Regions from separate parts of the Homo sapiens genome. Here region 1 is linked to region 2. The links come from fine-mapping of genetic effects on gene expression. Tissue or cell type: whole blood. Region 2 holds a variant in brackets; the other region holds the start of a gene. All regions are shown on one strand. Distances are from middle to middle.

Region 1 (2,757 bases), 140 kb after region 2:
AAATAACACCTTAGTCTTTCTAATGAAAAGAGTGTTCACCCAAGAGTTCCCAGGTTACACTGGGAATGCTATAAAACAAGTAATTCTGACCCCCAGAAAGATAGGTGAACTATACATTTTAAAATTTTAATTAGTCTCAGATGTAACACGCAAACATCATGTATTTAAACTGAAAGAAAAGTGGCATATAGCAAACCAAATTGCCAGAAGCGACATTCCTACACTTAGTCTTTTTTGTTTTTCCATTTTGTCAGGCAAACGTTTTGACAGTTGGGCCAAAATTCCTAAACAGGATGATAACAACGTAACCATCTGCTAGCATTTACTAAAAAATACTTCTCGAGTATACACTAGACTGGCTTTTCAACGTTTCAATGGTAAGAACTAATCCCAAATGCTTTTGTTATCCATATTTTACCATCTTTTCAAAGTTTTCAAAATAATCACTTAAAAAGTCACTTTCAAGTATCTCTCCACGTTTTTAAAACCCCCAGTGATATGTAATTTTACCTGAAAGTAATTTACCTACAATTTTTTAGAGATAGGTGTTTCATCAATACTGTTTATGCTTGCAAACAAGAAAAACTATCCAAAGGAACTGACTCAGTATCTAAACCTTTTGTGTCACGTTTTCACTTTTGGAAGACGCACATAAAACACTAACAGGTTATTAGACAACAAATAAGTTAATTTAAAACAGGGATTTATTGAGACTTTCTCAAGAAATCTCACTTTCCAAACTGGCCTACTGTCGCACATTCCTTCACACAGGTGAATCTTTTCGTTATGTTTTTGTAATGGGCTTCAAATCAATCTAAATCTGTCAGGATGGCCCCACAATCTTAAACACCCACCCTACAGCGACCTGCCCCGCTCTCCCTAAGTGACACTGTCTCGGGGGGTGGGGGGGGCGCTCTCCTACCCATAGGACACCAGGCCGGCTTCGGCACTTAATGCCCGCCAACGCCAGAGATGGGCCTGACACTTAGGCAGCCTTGCAAAGTAGAGGACACACAGAAGTTCACAGGTAAGTACGATCTGCACAGCGGAGAGGAGGAGCGAGAAAGGGAGAATGACAATAGCGAGGGAAGGCGAGGGAGAAAACGGAATAGGCCGAACACAAAGAGAGTCGGAGCCGGGGAGAGCCTCGTCCTCTCCTAAGCGGGGAGGCCCCCCGGCCTACACCCCCGCCCACCGCGGCGCGGTCCTGGCCCCCAGAGTCCGGCTGCCTCACGTACCTCCGGCGCCTGCTCCTCCGCTCGCTCCCAGGGCGGCCGCCATGGCACTCGCGGGGCCCGGCCTTCAGCCTCCCCCACCAAGCCAGCTGGTGGGCCGACGTGCCTGGTCCGGGCCCGGGTACGGGTGACGGAGGACAGAGAAGGGAGGGGGCTGCAGGAGGCAGAGGCGAAGCCGGGCGCTTCGCGGTCCACAGCTGGCCCTTCGCCTCCGCAGGAAGAAAACAACAAACTACCGCAACATGGCCGCGCGCCCGCGCCCGCCGCGGTGCACCCTGGGATGATGGAGGCCGGGAGGCGGGCGGGCGCCGGGGCCTGCCCCCGCCGAGGCCGCAGCAGCCCTGAGGCCGCCGCCGTGTTTCGGGCGGTGGGCGTGCAACGCAAACACGCGGCAGTCACCTCCGCCCGGCTCCTGAAACCCAAATGTTTGAAGCAGGGCGGGGACGACTGCTGGCCATAGGTCGATTCCGGGTTCAGTCGTAAGGCGCTTTGCAGCAGTCGGCAAAGCGAAGCTTTACGGCAGCCCGTCTCCCGTTAGGAGCCGGGGAGGCAAGGTCCAGCGTACGGTCCGGGGGAACCTTAACTGTCGTTTCTGTGCCTGGACAGTAGGTTGGAGAGTGGGGTCTGAATGAGCTACAGTAGTGAACGCCGACGGCTTGTGTTGAGGGCAGGAAAGGGTGCACACAGCTCCGGCAGGTGCTTCCGCGAGGTGAGATGAGTGCCGCGCGCGCCGGGCTAACGTGCACGCGCACTCGTGCGGCGCCCGCGAGCCCTCACTTCCTACAACCCGAGACCCTCCGGACCCGCGACCCCGGACCCCCGTCCCCTTCTCCGCGCCCGGCTGGGCAGCGGGCAGCGCCGGACCCTGATGGGCTCTCGGCCCTTACTGCCCCTGCGCCTTGCGGCCCTGAGAACAAGACGTGAGCAGGACGGATAGCGCCCGGCACTCATGTCTGAGTTTGCATTTTGAGCAGTGAGAAAGGTTAAGAAACGAAATCCTCATACTTGACATAAAGGAAAGGGTGCTGGGTGGTCAGACAGCTGTGGACGAAAGGGCTCAGGGGTTTTGGGGTGTGGGGCCCGGGAAGGCGCATCTGAGTGGTCGCAGTCGGGGAAGGGGGTTGATTAAGTACACACCGGCTGTAAACATTGATTCCATATCGGTCAATGTGGGGCTTAGGTGAGGCGTTCTGACCCAGCAATGAAACTGGAAAGGTAGGCAGGGGCCAGGATTCCGGACTTTGGGACGTTTTTCTGAGTCTATGGGGTCTATTGAAAGATTTTAGAAACAATTTACATGGTAAGATTTGTATTTTAGAAAGGTGACTGATACAACAACGTAGAGGACCCTGCAATGTGGAGAGGCATGAAACTGGAGGTCCAGTGCCGTGAGTTAACAATCAAGACGTCCATACAGGAGATGCATTGGTGGATGGGTGAAGAGATGATAAAACGGTACGTATAATAAAATGCTGGCCGGGCGCGGTGGCTCACGCCTGTAATCCCACCACTTTGGGAGGCT
Region 2 (2,757 bases):
GAGAGGGTGCTGCAGGTGGAGAGTGGGCTGGAGCTGGTCACCAGCGCCTCCCGAACCCCAGCACAGACACCAACACCAGCATCCGGGTGAGAGGGGAAGCCGGCCCATCACAGTACACAGGCAGGCTGGAGCTGGTCACCAGCGACCCCCGAACCCCAGCACAGACACCAACACCAGCATCCGGGTGAGAGGGGAAGCCGGCCCATCACAGGGCACAGCAGGGGGTGTGATGGGGGTTATCTTCTTGAATGTTTTGGACAGTAGTTTCTGGAAACAGAGCTGCCTTCTTTTTAAAGACTTCATTTTCAAAATAGACCATAAATTATGAGCAATTTCTAACAACATGAAAAACACGTGGGATACATGAAATGGAAAATATACATGATGGCATATGCACTGTGATCCCAACCTCCAGCGAGGCCTGCACACGGCAAGAACACGCCACCTTGGAAGAACGGCGTCACTGGAGACTGAGCTTCCCCACCTTCAGTCTCTTATTGCCATGCTGGAATACAAGTCTCTTCTGAAGAAAACTTGTAAAAATTATCTATAATGCTTTAAAAAATTAAAAAGACTAACTCCCCCACCCCCAACCAAAAGGAGCATACTTTGATGCCGTCTGCCTGGTCAGTTCGGAGTCATGCAGCGCCCAGAATGCAGGCAAGGAGGCGGCGGCTGCCCTTGACCTTCGTGGCCCACTAATGAGAGAGCTGCGTGAAAGCCGCGGGCTGCAACCCAGCGGCCAATCTGGGGAGCGTGAGGGCAGCCCCCGACCCCGGCCCCTTACAGAGGTGCGGAAGCACCGTCTCGGACACACAGGTAAGATGAGCTGTGGCCCGACCTGAGCGCCCAGACAAAATGAAGGCTACGGAACCAGAGTGGAAACTGCAGGGTTTTATTAACACGACTTCCAAATTACATACAATATAGTTCAAACACATTTTTTTGGTACGAAATCACACAAATGAAACACACAACAGTACATTTTCCTTTCAACTACGTCATTACCATTCTTCACACAGATCCTGAAAAAGTTACCACAGCAGTTAACGCGAAGTGAACAAAGGGGTGGAACAGGCAACGGCATTCCCCCAAGGTAGGTGTGGTGTGTCTGGGAGAAAACAGGATGGAGATCAAACCCAGAGAAACGCACTCCCGTCATCTCTCCATGTCTCAATTTCCAACGCTCTCCCAGTCAACACAGCTTCGCCCCCAACCAGAGCCACCCGGTGCAGCCCGCAGAGTGTACACGCATCAGGGCCGGGAGGCCCCGTCGGCAAAGCAGTAACACACGGTCAGACGGCCGCCACCTCCAAGTGGAGTGAGCCACGCTACCACTAACACTGAACTCAAGCACAAGAGCTCCTGCGAAAGCAGAGGGGCGGGAAACAAAGAAGCGGGTGGTTAAGGGCACGAACCGCACACTGCGGGACGCCGGCATCTTTGAATCGCCACTCACTCCTACAGAGCCAAACTGCAAAACAACAGAATTAAAAAGTTACTCTCTCCAATCAAAGACCTGGAGGAATAAATCGTGAGTGAAGACCTGTCGAAGCAAAGGTTGAGAGGTGATGGAG[T/AGGTGATGGAGT]GGTAAACACAGTGTGAAAATCGTCAGCACCTTCCCACCCAGCCCACGTGGAGTTCTCAAGGCTGAGGCGGAGCAGAGTGGCAGGAATACGGCCCTCACCCAGTTGAAGCCAGGAGGTGGAGGGAGAGGAGCATGGAAAGCCAGGGAGATGGGAAGGTCTGAGAGAGTGAGTCTTGGAATGGGACAGGAGCTACCAGTGTTAAGAATGGTAGATGGGTTTAGCCAGGAAAGCAAAACAGAAATGGACAGAGAGGGAGAGCCCAGAGCATGGCATGGTGAGGTGATCCCATTACTAAATGAACAGTAGCAAGAAGCAGGCACGTGGAGCAAACAGAATCAGCTCAGACATGAAAAAGGTCACACTCTGTGCTTTGCTGCTGTGGTACCTGAAAATTAAACAGTGGAATTAAAGCCCCAGAGTTCAAGTCCTCACAGAGGACACCATCCTGGATCCCACGCCTGTGAAAAGCAAAGCTGGATTATAGAAACGAGCGGTGGCTTTTTTTGCTCCTTCGGCTCAGGGCACCCCTGTGTGCTGTGCGCGCGTTATTGAAAATGTTACCCACCTAAGAAAAGACTACAGAACGCATACAGCTAGAACGCATACAGCTTACACAGTCCTTGCAAAACCAGCTTCCGCCACGGGTGCCCTTAAAATGAAAAGCAGTTTAAAAGAAAATCATGCTAAAAGAATGCATGAGGTCTACTTTCTAGAGTATATTAAATTATTAAATACAGAATACATTACAATAGTACCTGTCTGCCTATCCACTCTATGGAACATATTAAAATAAAAAACTACATGCTGTTTCTTTTTAAAGGCCTACATTTTTCTATATACCTTTTAAAATCAGTAAAATAAAACCAAGCAAAATATCAACATGAAGACCTCCTTCTCTTTTAGTTGGTTAGAAGTCAAAGGAAAAAGCAAGTACTCAGAAGTGTCTCACTAAAATACCTGTTCCGTCCGCCAATCTTAAAGATTTCCTACCAAAACATGACACAGAAAAGAGAGAGTTGAGACATTAAAAGCATTTTCTAGCCAAGGCAGGTTACAATGTGTGAGGCAAACGGCCTTTTCCAGCCATATGCTACCAGCAGAAGGTATACCTGGGGATCCAATATGAATCAGTGAGTTCCGCTTTAGTTCCAGTACACAAACCACGGGCTTATGCACCTC

The links. PIP is the estimated chance that this variant, and not a neighbour inherited with it, causes the effect.
Region 1: RBM33 starts here. The variant in region 2 is fine-mapped to the expression of RBM33 in whole blood (INTERVAL, PIP above 0.99).

The regions. Positions count from the first base shown.
Region 1 is chr7:155,643,401-155,646,157 of GRCh38, reverse strand. RBM33 (RNA binding motif protein 33) reads right to left here and starts at 1,497. Exons shown (of 18, transcript NM_053043.3): 1 at 1,239-1,497. The coding sequence starts at 1,281. RBM33-DT (RBM33 divergent transcript) reads left to right here and starts at 1,752. Exons shown (of 3, transcript NR_126344.1): 1 at 1,752-1,944; 2 at 2,554-2,690. RefSeq lists a silencer at 1,170-1,679 and an enhancer at 1,604-2,558.
Region 2 is chr7:155,779,603-155,782,359 of GRCh38, reverse strand. It overlaps RBM33 (RNA binding motif protein 33), which reads right to left. Exons shown (of 18, transcript NM_053043.3): 18 at 880-2,757. Among named protein-coding and RNA genes, the nearest start is that of SHH, 31 kb to the left of the region's middle. RefSeq lists an enhancer at 1-358 and a silencer at 611-905. The variant T/AGGTGATGGAGT (reference allele first, on the strand shown) is at 1,578.